2 separate regions of the Homo sapiens genome follow, and region 1 is linked to region 2. The links come from fine-mapping of genetic effects on gene expression. Tissue or cell type: whole blood. Region 2 holds a variant in brackets; the other region holds the start of a gene. All regions are shown on one strand. Distances are from middle to middle.

Region 1 (8,190 bases), 28 kb after region 2:
TGAGGCAGGAGAATTGCTTGAACCAGGGTGTCAGAGGTTGCAGTGAGCCAAGATCGTACGACTGCACTCGAGCCTGGTAACAGAGCTAGACTCCATCTCAAAAAAAAAAAAAAAAAAAAGAAATAAATTCCCTAAGGCTATAGCTGCCATAGACTGTGATTCCTCTGATGGATATGGGCAAACTAAATTCAAAACCTTCTGGAAAGGATACACATTCTAGAAGCTGTTAAGAACGTCTGTGATTCATGGGAGGAGGTCAAAATATCAACATTAACAAGAGTTTGGAATCCAGTCCTCATGGATGACTCTGAGGGATTCAAGACTTCTGTGGTTATAGGAGGAGCAGGATTGAAATAATAAACAACAAAAGACATCAGTGGAGGAAGTCGCTGCAGATGTGGAGGAAATAGCAAGAGAACTACAATCGGATGTAGAGCCTGAAGATGTGACTGAATTGCTGCAATCTCATGATAAAACTTGAACAGATGAGAAGTTGCTTCTTATAGATGAACAAAGAAAGTGGTTTGTTGAGATGAAATCTACTTCTGGTGAAGATGCTGTGAACATTATTGAAATGACAACAAAGGATTTAGAATACTACATAAACTCAGTTGATACGGCAGCACCAGGGTTTGAGAGAACTGAATGTAATTTTGAAAGAAGTTCTACTGTGAGTAAAATGCTATCATACATCGCATGTTACAACAAAATATTTCCTAGAAGGAAGAGCCAATCAATGAGGCAAACTTCACTGTTGTCCTAAGAAACTGCCAAGCCACCCCAATGTTCTGCAACCACCACCCTGATCAGTCAGCAGCCACCAAGACAGAGACAAGATCTTCCATTAACAAAAATATTATGACTCGCTGAAGGCTCAGATTAATTGTTAGCATTTTTTTTAAATTAAGTACTTTAAAATTATGGCGTATACATTACTTTAGATATAATGCTGTTGCACACTTGATAGATTATACTACATTGTAAAATATAACTTCTATATACACAGGGAAACCAAAAACTTTGTGACTTGCTTTATTGCAGTAGTCTGGAACCAAACCTGCAGTATCTCTGAGCTATGCCTGAATAAATAAGGAGGAGAGTATTATATATAAAGACTATACTTTGCGGTACCAGGTGTTACCTATAGGCTTAGCAACTTCTAGACCCTAAGACTCTGAACCTTAAGGAAATGTCAGAAATGACAGAATTACAGAATCCCAGAATGTTAAAAGTTGAAGAGGACCAGAGACACTACCTAATCACACAGTTCTCAATTTTTTGTGGGTCACAAACCCATCTGAGAATACGATGAAAGTGGCACATCCGTTTTCCAGACTCATGCAAGCAGAAATACATACACGATTTCAGGGGGTTCATATTCACAGACATCGAAGCTCATCTAGTGATCCCAAATTTTTAAGATGAACAAACAGAACCAGAGAGGATAAGGTGACAAATCACTTGCCCAAGATTAAATAGTGTCAAGGTTCAGGCTGGGATACAGACTTCCCAGGTTACAGTAAACATTCTATCATCAAGTCAGTCCTCTGTCACTGTGGTTGTCTTCCTGCATTCCAGAGCAATGCCCTAGTGCTTGGAGAAAGGCTTCTAGATGCTCTGATAGAACTGCATCTGACCACACCCTACCTTCACCAATTAGGATTTATGGTCCATTTAATTTAGGCTCCCATGCAGTGGTCTATGGCCACCTTTGGTATATTACAGTCACTCTGTGGCTGCCTGCTTAGCTGACCTTAGCCACAGGAAGCATTACTTTTGTCTTGGTGTTGCAAGCACATTCTTAAACCAGAGTTGTTTCCAAAAAGTGTTCTCCTATCTCGTCAATTCAAATCTCCTTCCCATCCCAAACTCAAATTACTTTTCTTTACCCTCGTGAAAAATACCCCCTCTCACTTGAAACTTCCCTATATTCTCAATGATCCTATCTGGTCAAGGGCTTCCCTGCCCTTCAAGTTTCTCATGCCTTTCTTTAGTTTCTATTGGTTTCAGCTTGCTCATATCAAAGTAATCTTGCATATCACTTAATTTGACCTCACAGACCTTAATTGACATCATAGACTATCTTGTGTATCTACTGACCAGGACAGCCTCTCTTGTCTAAAGAAATACCACACCACATAAACCAAACTGCTCAGATAAAAACCACACACAAACAAAACAAAACAAAAACCCCCCAACAGGATGATGGTGCTGAAAAAGGCCTAGGAATCATCCAGCTCAACCCTTCGTTTTACAGATAAGGAAAGTGAGGCCTAGAGATGTTAGATGGCTTGTCCAAAGTCACAGAGGCAGGATGTACCAGTGTGAAGCAGGGATACAGGTCTTCAACTCCTTTTTAATTTTATTTCACTATACCACCTTATTTCATTTTAGTATACCACCAATTTTACTTCACTATATCACCCTATCTTACTGGAATCTAGTTGTCCCTTTTTCTCCTCTGCTATGCATTAGTATCTGTTTGACTAAATATAAAGTGTGTACCTCTGGGCACACAGCCATTTAAACAAAGAGGCACACAAAACTCTACATTCTTTACCCAAGGAGGACATCAGAATTACAGCATCACATATTTTAAAGAGGGGAAAGAAGGCTTACAGATAATCTAAAATGTTAATTCTCAAAATGAAAGTTAAAAATTACAAGCGGATTTTTTTCAGTCTATGCCTATGTAATACATACCCTCCAGACTGGACCTCCTCCTTCCCTGGGAAAATCATGGCTTTATAGAACTATTATTTTATCCTTCACTTGTGCTGGGGGAATGGGAAAGGGGATTAAAAACCAGTGACCTAATCCAACGTCTTCCTTTAGCAGATAAAAAAATCTCAAGTTCAGAGAGAGGAAGGGATTTGGCCAAAGTAAACCATCAAGTTAATAGCAACTTTGGAACAAAAATCAAGGTCTCCTGTTTTTCACTTTGTAGTGATTTACACTGCTGGTTTAGGTGTATAAAACAAAGTTTTCTGGACAGAGCTTCTCATTGCACAGGAACCTTCCTAAGTGACCAGTTGCCCTTGGCCAGCTTGGTGTCTGCAAAGAAACACGGTAGACATCTCTTAGTCAAATTCTGGGTGTGCAGAGTGCAGGGAGAATATGCTTTTCAGGTCTGTAAAGACTCCATGAAAAGGGAGTTAAGAATCTGATTTCCACAGCTAGGGCACGGACATCAAAGGCATCCAACACAGATAAGCAAACTGCAGCACAGAAAAGCTAATGGACCTAGACAAGGTCACACGGTGTGTAGGTGGAAGGGGTGAAACTAGAATTCAGGGCTCCTGATACTCAGGCGTGGCAGCCAAAGATGTGTTCACTGCTTCCTGCTCAGGGACATCTCCTCACTACGCTGAACACAGACCTCCTTCACTTTACTGGCCGAAACACCGACTTAACATTAAAATCATGAAATTCGTGACGCCCGGGGTGGGAGACAGTCACAGAAGCTGTCCAGTCCAACACCCTCACCCATTTCATTGAGGAAACTGGGGCCCAGAGAGAGTTCTTTATGCTGGATTTTGGGGCCAGGTTCAGACAAGCAGGCAACCCCCGCAAGCACGGCCTAGAAGGCCAGGAACTACAAATTCAACCCCTGATCTCTCAAGGAGCTCTAGGCCCCAAGGGGGCCAGAGGCCGAGCTTAAGCGGTCGGAAGTTCCAGAATCCCCACCCAGCTACCTCAGCCCTGCCGCACGCACTCCGGGCTTTGCCACCCCGCTCCCGGTCCCCAGGCCCACTCAGCCGCCGCCTCACCTACGCCGACCCTCCGCCTGTTATTGTGGTTGAGAGGGAGGGACGCTACAGACACTTCCCCGGCCCCTACCGCTGAGGCACTTCCGCTTCCGCCGCCGCTCGCATATTTCCGGAGTGTTGTCATCCGGGGCTGGAGCCTCAAACCCGTGTCCATATTGTGTGTGTGAAGAAGCATCGAAGCGCGGCAGCCATGTTCAGCGTGGCATTTCGGAAGGCTTGTCAGGGGTGGAGAAGCGGGGCGGGTTGCTGTTCTTTCACCTGACACTAAAGCGCCATGCCGGAAGCACTGAGTCTGATACGTCGGAACCAGTCTCCACCGTGTGGTTTGGTCTTGATTTCCACTGGTACTCTGGGGTCTTGGATAAGTCTCTGGACCTCGCCTTTGTCATTTGCGAAGTCGATAGGTTCCAATAGAGATTTTCCCAGAATCATTCAACTAAAAATAGAGAACTTTTTTTTTTTGAGAGGAAGGACGGGGGCGCAGTTAAAGATGTTAATGTTAAGTCATCCCTTCTGTGATTTCGGGACATTATCTTTGCACGTAAGTAATAGTATTTTACAGTCCAAAGGAATTTCACATGAGTGTCATTAAAAACTCTACACGACTCTGACATGTAGGCAAGGATCAACTTAATCACCTTTTCTGTTGTTTAATGGATAAGGAATTGTCTTCAGAGAGTGTAATTGATTTTCACAATGTCTCGCAGATGGACTGAAATTCAGATTTTTACCTTTTACATCCTGTGTTCTTGCCCTAATATACATGTAATTAATATGGGCTAAAATCCCTAGATTTAAATAGATACAAATACTTCTTAGGAAAGTTAGTGTGCATTAAAGCCATGTGAGACACAATTTGACAAGACGTAGCATTGACTAGGCTATTCTGCTGGAGAAGAAAAAGCTGAAGAAGGCTTGGGAATCCCATTTCTTCTTATTCTTTTCTTGATTGATAGCAGACCTACTGGTTTTTCCCCTCTTTCCCCAATATGGTTCGGCACCTTAGGTTTCAGCTTGTCTTAGGCAGTCACAGTTTTAGCTATCCCATTCCGTATGTCAAACCATATATCTGTGTTTTTATTTGGAGCTCTGGTAGGACAAACAAAACAAAACCTCATCATATTCATGTACTATTCATTGTAATCTCAGCTTTCATGTTACATTCTTCCTGTAATTGAAGACAAAAATGAATTTTTATGCTATTTGCTTCTGTCGGTTTCTTCATATTCAAACTTTAATAAAGGAAACAGACTTTAGCTTTTTCTGTTTCCCAGGTTATTCTGAAGAATAAATAGGAATTACGAAAGTTTCTAGTGCAGGGCATGGCATATTTAGAAGGCATTCAGTAAGATTTATTTCAGCACAATTGGCCTGAATTTTTAATTCAATGGAATATGATTTTCATTTTATTAGCATTCCTCCTTTTGTAAAAAGCACTGTAGTGGGACCTGAAATGAATACTCATGAGTAAGAAAGGTTTCCTACCTCAAGTTTAGAAAATTTCCTACCACAAATCATTGTAATAAATGTTAAAGATATTTTCTCACTGCTATGAGTGTTATATATAATAAGATATCAAAACTAGTTTTAACATTTTCAGGTAGAGCATGTTATATGTATCCCTTCATCTCTAGGATTTATTTGTACCTTGATGTTACAGGTTTTCATTAAAAAGGTCCTGAGTTAGTATTTCTCCTGTACAGTGGCACCATCATGGGGTCCCTGAGCGCTGCAGGAAAGTTTGCCCTACAGTAAATGACCTTAAACCGCTGTGTTGTTTTAATTTTCAATCCCCACTTTTTAATTAAATTCTAAAGTATCTCTTTTCATTCTTCCATGAGTTCTAGTATCAGCCCGTGTTCTTCCTTGAAATTCCTTAGGTACCTAAACAACAGATAATCCCTTTGTTAAAATGATGACTAATACTCAAGAGAAGTTTTGGTCAGGGATAGTGGTTGGAGTTTGCTCAGGACAGGTTCATATGGCTATGGAGCCTGTTCAGTGCACAACTGCAGAAGGTGCTATGCATATCAAGGCTATTCTTAACTACCCTTAGACTTGGCGTATATGGCAGAACTCCACTATGAATTCAAATACAGGATTTTTTTTGAAGGTAAAAAGGAAAAAAAAAAACTATTGTAGCTGTTTTGACTGAGAAGTTGTGTATTTAGTAGTCAGCAATGCAGGCTTTAGAACCAGAAAGACTTGGTTAACTGTGAGTTCCTCTGCTTACTGGCAGAGAGACAATGGGCAATCACTTCAGCTCTAAGGTTCAGGTTTCTTTAAAATAGACATTATGGTACCTACGTAACAAGTCACTCCAGAATTTAGTGGCTAAAAATTTTATCTGCCCTGATTCTGTAGGGTAACTGGGTTAGGCTGGGCAGTCCTAGCTTGCAGTCTCTGGCATTTACAGTCAGATATCAAACTGGGGCTGTAGTTAATGTCAGCCTCTAATAGATGTTATATTGATGGCAGTTGAGGCTGGCTGATCTCTAGATGCTCAGTTGGAGCTATTTATCAGAGTGCCTACACTTGGGCTTTCCCTCTGATTTGGGTTTCTTATACCGTGGTGTTTGGGTTTTGACAGGGAGCACTTGGAGGTAGAATGGGAAAAAAGGGAGCTGTTCCAAGCAAAACAGGAGGAAGCTACAAAACTTCATATAATGTAGCCTCTGCAGTCCCAGGAGTGACTTCCATCACGTCGTGTTAGGTCAAAAAAGCCACTAAGCCAGCCCAGATTCAAGAGAAGAATAAGAGTCCACCTCTTAATTGAAGATGTAGCAAAGACTTTGTGGCCATCTGTAATTTACCACACTACCTCATTGTTTTTAATTTTTAGATTTTTGGATGTATGAATATTAGCACAAGCATCAAAAAGTAAGGCTTGTAGTCCCTCCAGCCCAGTCTTGCATTTGTGCATGAATAATGTCATACATTATTTTTTAAGAAAAATTGTGGCAAAATATATATATTTGTCATTTTAACCTCTTTAAGTATACAGTTCAGTGGAATTATGCACATTCACATTATTGTGCAAACACCACCGCCGCCAATCATCATAACTTTTCTATCTTCCCAAACTGAAACTCTTTAAACAACAATTCCCTATGCTCTCCTTCCCCCAGTCCCTGGCAGCCACCATTCTACTTTTTGACTCTATGATTTTGACCACTCTAGGTACTCATATAAGTGGAATCATAACAATATTTGTCATTTTATGTCTGAATTTTTTCACTTAGCATAATATCTTCAGGGTTCATCCATGTTGTAGCATGTATTTAGAATTTAATTCCTTTTTAAATCTGAATAATGTTCCACTGCATATATATTTCACATTTTGTTTATCAATTCATTCTTTATGTTATTTATTTGTTGTTTATTTTTCATTGTGATTAAAAACACATAACATAAAATTTACCATTTTAGTTATGTATTTCCATTCATTTTTAGTTTTTAGTTAATGCATAATAATTGTACATATTCATGGGATACAGAGTGATATTTCAATACATGTATACAATCTATAATGATCAAAGCAGGCTAATTAGCATATCCATTCACCGCAAACATTTATCATCTTTGTGTTGCAAACATTCAAAATCCTCTCTTTTAGCTTCTTGAAAATATACAATAAACTATCATTAACTGTATTCACCCTACCATTAACAGATGAATGAATAAAGAAAATGTGGAACATATACACAAAATATGTATACAAAAGGATGAAATCCTGTCATTGGAGGCAATATGGATGAACCTGGAGGACATTATGTTAAGTGAAATAACTCAGGCACAGAAAGATAAACACTGTATGTTTTCACTCATATGTGGGAGCTAAAAAAATTTTTGAGCCCATTTTTAAGTGTACAGTTCAGTAGTATCAACCATATTCACGTTGTTCAGCAGATCTCTAGAACTTTTTCATTGCGAGACTGATACTCTATGTCCATTGAACAAGAGCTCTCCATTTTCTCCTACCCTAGCTCTGGAAACCACAGTTTTACATCCTGTTTCTGAGTTTGACTACATTAAATACCTCATAGAAGTAGCTTCACACACTTTGTCTTTTTGTGACTGACTTATTTCACTTAGTATGAAGTCCTCAAGGTTTTAAGGCTGAATAATATTCCATTGCCTGTATATATCACATTTTCTATTCATCCATCAATGGGCATTTGGGTTACTTCCACATTTTGGTTATTATGAATAATGCTGGAATAAACATGAGAGTGTAAATATCTTATTGAGATCTTGTTTTCATCTTTTGGCATATAGATGCAGAAGTGGGATTGTTGAATCATAGGATAATTCTATTTTTAATTTTTTGAGGAGCCACCATACTCTTCCATAGCAGTTACACTGTTTTACATTCTCATCAACAGTGTACAAAGGTTCCAATTTCTCCACATCCTCACCC
Region 2 (8,190 bases):
AAAAAAAAAAAAAAATCACAGGCTGTTTTTATTTTCTTTCCTATCAAAATAAACAAAAACTCCCTCAAATGTATCTTACCTTGGGTGGTTCACGAAACATCTGATCCAGTGAAATAAACTCTAGGCTGGGTAATAATTCAATAAACTGGCCAAAAGAGTCCAGCTTCAAAGCATGGCACCGTACTAGGTTGATATCAACCAATCGAGTCCATCTTGAGTGGTCTGTTAAAGAAATGACATGACCAGAGAAAATCTAAGTAACATTTTCCCCATTACTGATGAATTTTGATACAGGTCACAAAGACTTTCAAATCCTTTTTTTTAAAATAACTTTTCCTTTTTTTCATGACTTCTAAAACCCGATGATTCTAAATTATGATGTTTACATACCTAATTCCATTGTGAGAACTAAATGGCCTGGGGAACATTAATTTGAATCCAATCAGCCCTGATTTAAATGTGATCCACTCAACAACCTACATGGCTTTTCAACAATAGGACACTGAATTAAAAAATTATGGCATATTTATTTAATAGAACATTATGTAGCTATTTCAAAAGAATTAAGGAGAGCTTAATATGCTTGCTGACATGGAAAACTCTCCAAATTATACTTAGTACAAAAAACAAGCTACAGGACAGTGTATACAGAGTAAGATCCTTTGGTATAATATAAATCATTTTTAAATGCTACACATATATATGCTGCAATATGCATAATTTGTCCAGAAAAATATACAAAAAACTGTTGATGATGGTTACCTTTGAGAAGAGGAGAGTTTTCATTTTGTACCTTTCTGTACTGTTTGAAATTTATCAAGTGCATGTATTACTTATTTTTTTAAGTGTTAACAGGAATTCTGAGTGATGGGATTATAGGCCATTTTTTGTTTTCTTCTTTATACTCTTCTGTATTTAAGAAAACAAACAAACCAAAAACCCAATAAATGTTATTTTTTTAAAGTCATCTACGCCTGCTACATCCTAAAGTTCATATTTCCCAATAACTTCTTGGTTCAGCAGGGCCAGGGATAGAATTTAACTGCTGCTGGCACATGAGACATGACTATATTAACGAGTGATCTCAGCAGAGGTCCCAGAGCCCTAAAATAGGCCTGGATAGTAGCTTTGTGAGGAGATACAGATCCCGGTCAAGTGACTCAATAGCAGAGGAGGCTGTTCTGTAGGTGTCAGTGAGAGGCTTTGTCACAAGTACAACTTTTTCAGGCTCTCAATTTATTTAATGGTTTGTAAATTTCGGTATCTAAGAAGGGCCTTTAAGAAAACAGATGACATTACTCTGAGAGGAAAATGAACTCCCACCATAAGGGAAAAATATCAAGTGCAAAAGTCACACTTCTACATATAGGAGATTGGAGGGGGAGATCTGAAATAGACTGGGATTTCTAGTCAATAGAAATTTTTATCTCAGGTTAATGTCACTTAATTAAAGTTCAACATACATACCTACTTTGTCCTTTCAGATGATGTGCTATTGTGAAGATAATTCTGAGAAAATAACTACAATATCCTAAGTCCTAGGTAACAATGAACTAACCTTAATTTTATGTTCCTAGCCCAAAGAAGTACATATAAAAATCAGGGCACTTGAATCCACAACCTGGAGAGTATACACTTCTAGGCAGAGAACGTCAGAAGTTTAAAGAGGCATTGAATATACTTCCAACTTGGTTATCAAAGGTTACCAGAACTTGTATGAACAATCCAAATGAAATACCTACATTTTACATTAGGAATGCAATCATATCACACATAGAAAACATGGAAAGTTGTATTATTTCAGTATCAATAAAACATAGCTGTATTTTTAAGTCTGTAATACCTGAGATCCAATTGTATGGGTTGTGTAGATGAGGGCAATTGTAAATTGCCAGATATTTGATACAGGAAAAAACTTCATTGACTGCTTTCATCCCTATATCAGTGATGATACCAGGATTTTCTACCACATCAGCCAAACCATACTTCACCAGATCCGCATTAGCCATTCTGCCTAAAAAGAGCAATCAATTAAAAAAAAAAAAAGTCAAATTCTTAAGTGTTAGGGAGTGTTACCAACTTTGTATCTTACCAGTCAGTATAAAAAGTCTCTACCATCATTCTGTATCATCTGCTTATCATTGGGTTCAGGTATAATTTTAGGTTAGGTATTCCGTACATATGGTAGCACTTCTTGTACAAAATAATAAATTATATTAAAAGTCAAGGGACAGCTAGTAGGAAAAATTATTTCCAATTGTTTAGAGAAGAGAAAAGGCAAAAATTCTTAAAGCATAAGTGAAGGATCTATCATACTGGTTCATACCATGGTAAAGTTTTAGCTTTATCATTTAAAAGGAAAACAAAATCTTAAAAACTCAACTCCCTTACAATAAAATGATGTTCTTGGAGCCCAGTGTGGACATGTGTAGAGAAAGGTAAACTCTGAGAATTTAAGATTCATTGTTAGAACCCATGGCACTGGTTAGTAACATCTATCTATACCCTAAAAGTGCACTTCTAACTCAAACACATGCCACTGGGCTTTAGTGCCTACTCTCTGGTCACAAACTAGGGGTTTGGGAATAAGTAAAGGAGGATCCTTTATTCTAGATCATGTCACTAAGAATCACACCTCATCCCTTGCCTCTTATCATTTCTCCCATCTGCCTGCCCCCTCACGCTCCAAGATTCTGTTAGTTCATAGTTACATCTTTAGTGTCTAGCATAGTGCTGGGGATACAAGAGCTCATGGGAATACGTCTCTCACAGTCTGCAATCAACCAATATGCAGGACAAAAAAAAAACACTGCCACTCTGGTGAAGCTGCCCTGAATATCACAGGGATTTACAACTTTAGCTACAACATGTTAAAAACAATCCATCTTCTCCAAACTTCCAATTTTACTTTCCATATAGTTGACAGTCTTTCTCCTATAGTTCCTATATTTGGTATCTCCTGGCACATCTTACAAATTTCACCTTAATCCATCCTTTACAATTTAGCTGAACTATTTTCTTTAGCTCCTGGTAAGGATCATTTCCCTGCTCTTAGGACTTCAGATGAAACTTACCATTTTCCTTAAGATAGGGTAAACCTTGAACTGACCCTGTTTCCTGGGCACTATCTGAATAAATGCTGTAACCTAACATGACAAATCGATGTCTTGCATTTAGTTTTTTGAGATGAACACCATGTTTCTACTCTTGGGGCTTCCTGCTTGACACACTCCTTTCAAAATCCTGATGATATTACTTGAGATTCATTTTTGTTTTTCTTTTCAGCCCACAGGTGAGCTAAAGGTAAAAGTTATCATTTATTGAATACTTCCTAAGTGTCAGAGATTACTGTAAATGTATACATCACTTTTCCCTTGGTTCCTCAGAGCTACCCAAGAGAAAAGCAGGATACCACCTTATCTTCATTTAAAAAATGAGAATTAACTTGCTTAGGTCTCATGATTAGTAGCAGACAGGCCTCAATTCTCTCTCTCCCTCAAGCTCTAGGACTAAATTGCTAGAACTCTAGGGCTAGGACTATATTGTTTCTGAAATTTTCACTGAGTTATACGTCTCTATCAGTATTATATAAAGCTTACAGATCATAAATCCACATGAACAAAGAACTCTCTAAAGATTCATCTTTGGGTCACTGTCAGAAGACAAAGGTGATGTTTCTATTTATTTATTCTGCCAGACCTTTTATAACAAGAAAGTGACTCAAGTTTTACCAGAGGCCAGCCACCACTTCTTGGAGAGATGCTTCAAATCTAAATTACTGAGAAGAGAGAAACTAAGTGAGAGAGTGTGAGTGAGCAGTGACCTCATGATATCGTCCATAACAAGTACCAGGCACCTATTCTGAAACAGAGAATCCTAGGTCATCTTTGGAGGGACAGAAGATAGTATGCATATGGAAGAAATGGTTAAACTGTGGCAAATAAGAAAATGAATGTACAAAGTTCAACATAACAGACTATTAAGTATGAAACAGAACATGAAACAAGTTGTGTTGAAAACTACGAGATAATGGTAGTCAAGAAGGTATTTTTATGCTATTGAAAACATATGTTGAGGAGAAAGAAACACTACAGGAAAATAATTGGTTATGAAGTTAACACTTGAAGACAATTCTTCAGTAGACCTAAATTTGGCCATCCTGAAGGTACACAATTTGTCAAGTTCTGAGCTTTTGGGAAAAATAGAAAACAAAATTATAGAAAGAATATCAATTTCAAAGCTAATAATTTTGTTACTATACAGACATTGCAGAAACATAGGGAATGTTAGATACTTCATTCAAAACCAGAAAAGCTTGATATCAAATGTATTAATTTTATATAAAATCATTGTACTCATTAGCATTTTAAAGCTATTTTGGAGAAAAGCTGATCTTTTTCAAAGCTATACAGATTTAACATGATTCTAATAGTAAACTGTCTAGAAAAGGATGGCTTGACTTTTTAAAGTAATCACCTATATTAATGAGTACTGTGAAAAACAAAAAAGTAAACAAACAAAAAACCCACAACTATTATTGTAATATATATTAGAAATGAAAAACAGTCATGTTTTTTGAGCTGGATTGTCCTGAATGGAAGAATTAAGCCTTCTTATGTTCTTCTATAATACAAACTAGATCCAAAGAAAAAATGTTATCTGCTATGAGGATGAGAGTTCAAGAAAGACTTGTTGCAAATCAGGTGGGAAGAAAATGAATTCTTGAATAAATAAAAGCATGTTGGTGATGAAAATTTTCTTTCATATCTTATTGATGCCATATGGAAAAATAGTTTGAGTAATGAATTGACATGCATTCAAACCCAAAGAAATGAGTTCTCAATTGTAAATG[G/C]GTAAGAAAATGCTGTGAACAAGCTTTCCAACAGCAATCATCATTAAATGAATACTGACCATTATGTGCTCACACTATCTGGAAAATCCAGAACCCCCAGCGGGCTTATTATGGAAATGAAGAGCATGGGCAGGGAATGGGACCTCATCTGAGAGGACCATCAAAAGCTTCAAGAAGTGTGGCAGATCAAATTCAACAATGGAACCAAGGATGACATTCTGTGAAAAAAATGAAGCAGAATGGGAAAGAAACTTGGGCAGTAAAGTGGAGACAATATCAAATGTAGATAAGGTTCTTTTTCTGGTGTATTGTTAGTAACTATATTTTCTATAATATGCTAAAATCAGAGGCAATATGGAAAAAAAAATCACTGACATTTCTAATTTAAAAGTTTATTTTTCAAGACGTGAGAGCACCTAAGATTTTAAGTTGTCTTATGTTCAAAAAGACATGGCACAACCCAATTCAGATTTCAGTTTGTCAAGTAAATTTCTTACAGTAATTCTAGGAATTAAAATGGGATAAATCTTACTCTGTAGCAAAAACTCATCTACATATCCTAGATGAAGGGTTTCAAACTGGGGAAACTCCAACTCTGCCATCTTTAGGGCAGAAAAGACACCATCTTTGGTTAGGGAAGGCTGGATCCGAACTTCATGTAACCTGTGAATAAAGACAGAGAACATATCAGAGTAAAACAAAAACCATCAGAATCAAAGATTCCTCCTAATATAAGTGTATTAGTCCGTTTCTATGCTGCTGACAAAGACGTACCTGAGACTGGGAAGAAAAAGAGGTTTTAATGGACTCACAGTTCCACATGGCTGGGGAGGCCTCACGAACATGGCTGAAGGCAAAAAGGAGCAAGTCACATCTTGACTGATGGCAGCAAGTCACATTTTTGCCTGATGGCAGCAGGCAAAAAAAGAGAGGCTGTGCAGGGACACTCCCATTTTTAAAACCATTGGATCTAGTGAGACTTATTCACTATCATGAGGACAGCATGGGAAAGACCACCCCCATGATTCAGTCATCTCCCACTGGGTCCCTCTCACAACACATGGGAATTATGGGAGCTGCAAGATGAGATCTGAGGAGAAACAGAGCCAAACCATATCAGTAAGACTCTGAAAGAAGTTCATGACTTTAGTGAAGTGTCACAGATGTCAACAACTTCCCTCCCACTTCCTCCATTGAAAAAAAAAATATTTTCTTCAAAGGAGTATCTGCAAAGTGTAAGGAAATCTTAAGCAGTACACTGAAGCTATACATTAAATAACAATTAATTACAGGTAAGAATCTTATATCCTTTCAAGTGCTTTACTAAACCTGAAGAGTCAATGTGAGAATCTGCATCTGGTGCTGGTATTTGACATTTTGCTTAGGCTAGCTATTAATGTTGCATTTTAACAAAGAGTATAATTCTGTAGTAGGTAACAATACCTACCTAAACTTAGAAACACTTTTATTTATAATCCTAATCAAGTCTCTTGATGGAAAAAGCTTTGTTTCTGAATAAATTTTAAAAATGCTTAAAGAAAATATTATAAAATAAAAGTGGAGGTAGACCATTGATATGTAAGAAATAGTAAATGTGGCATAAAGTGATATAACCACTTGGTTAAAAAATATAGAGGTGTTACAAGGTCAGACTTTGGAAAAGCTGATTTAAAACACTGATTTCTGAATAGCAAATATTATCACCAAGTAACTAGAACAATTCAGAAAATCATCCAGAGATGGAGACAATGGTCCTGAGAGGGCTACAGACACCAGAGCTTCAATGCTAACTTCTATTGGACTCTCAGCCATTTCCAGAAATTCCACTGCTTTTCTCTGATATGAGACCATGCCACTCTGGAGCTTGCTAGTATGCAGCTCAACTGGTTACCAGTTATAACATTAAGACTACCATGATGTTATACTTATCTGTTATTTGGACTTCTTCGTATTTTAAATTTGAACAAGGCTTGATCAAATGTACACACATATATACACACACATTCCACAATTTTTTGTAAAATAGGGAAAAACATAATTACTTCTAAAGTGAGAGACACAATACAAAGAGGAAACATACCTACGGGCAGCAGTAATGATGAGGTAACCAAGATCTACTTCAAGAGCATTTTTGCAAGCTCCCAGAACAATAGTGTGCAAATTTCTAAAACCACCTAAAGACGAGGAACAAAAACAAGTGTTTGACCATAGCATTTTTAGTGAAGTATTTATATACTATACATTATAAAGTATTATCTGAGATGATAATTACTGATTTAAAAGTAAATCTAAGCTTTGTTTTTGCATTGAAATTAATATCTTAAGATGAATTATAACTACTGGTGACCTAAAAGGAAATGAAAGCAGACCCTCATTTTGCAAAGACACTGATGGCATCTGAAAACTACTCTAAAAGATTTACATTGTTAAGTAAGGATTTTTAGAAAGTCAGAAGCTGATGAGAGAATTGTAAAAAAAGAAACCCTGCCATTTCTGGCCAAATTTCGAACCTCCAAATATCATATGGAACAAGACCAGAACCACTTTAACTGATTTTTTTAATGTTTCTGAAACTTGTATTTACCTACAAAAAAGAACATAAATTACTAATATATAGCTTAAAGAAATGACTGATTTATCTGTTTTAAATTTGTATAAATAAAATCACAAAGTTTGTATACTTTTGTGTCTGGCTTCTTTTACTAAACACTCTGTTTATGAGATTCATCCATATCGCTGTGTAGCTGTAGTCTGTTCACTTATTACTGTACAGTATTTTGCTATATGAATATGCCACAATTTAATTATCCATTCTATTGCCAATAGGCATCTTTCCATTTTGGGATGATTAGAAACAGTGCTTCTATGAACAATCTTAAAAATGTCTTTTGGTGAACATATGTAAACATTTCTGTTGGGTTTAAAGCCAGGAATGCAACTGTTGCTATGTGTATGACCAACTTTAGTAGATACTACCAAACAGTATTTCAAAGTGGTTGTATGAATTTATATTCTGACCATCAGTGTATGAAAGGTCCTGTTGCTTCACATCCTAGCCAACATTACTGTTTTTATCTTTTTCATATTAGTCACGAGTAGGCATAGTCATTTTAGTGCTTGAATATCACACTGTAGTTTCAATTTGCATTTCCCTAACGATTAGTAAACTTTTATCGTTTTTTCATGTTTATTGGCTTCTTGTGTGCAAACTTTTCTATTCAAGTCTTCTCCCATTTTTTCTATTGAGTTGCCTGCCTTTTTCTTATTCATTCCAGGAGTCCTTTATATCTTCCCAATACCCAGTATCTGTATTGCAAACAGCTTCTCCCATTCTGTAG

The links. PIP is the estimated chance that this variant, and not a neighbour inherited with it, causes the effect.
Region 1: FBXO38 starts here. The variant in region 2 is fine-mapped to the expression of FBXO38 in whole blood (INTERVAL, PIP above 0.99). The same link has a PIP of 0.9 or more in blood mononuclear cells, lung and tibial artery.

The regions. Positions count from the first base shown.
Region 1 is chr5:148,379,620-148,387,809 of GRCh38, reverse strand. It overlaps FBXO38 (F-box protein 38), which reads right to left and starts at 3,852. Exons shown (of 22, transcript NM_205836.3): 1 at 3,771-3,852. It overlaps FBXO38-DT (FBXO38 divergent transcript), which reads left to right and starts at 3,960. Exons shown (of 5, transcript NR_105057.1): 1 at 3,960-4,311. RefSeq lists an enhancer at 3,876-4,075.
Region 2 is chr5:148,407,960-148,416,149 of GRCh38, reverse strand. It overlaps FBXO38 (F-box protein 38), which reads right to left. Exons shown (of 22, transcript NM_205836.3): 8 at 6,933-7,026; 9 at 5,385-5,515; 10 at 1,844-2,014; 11 at 80-222. Among named protein-coding and RNA genes, the nearest start is that of FBXO38, 28 kb to the right of the region's middle. The variant G/C (reference allele first, on the strand shown) is at 4,853.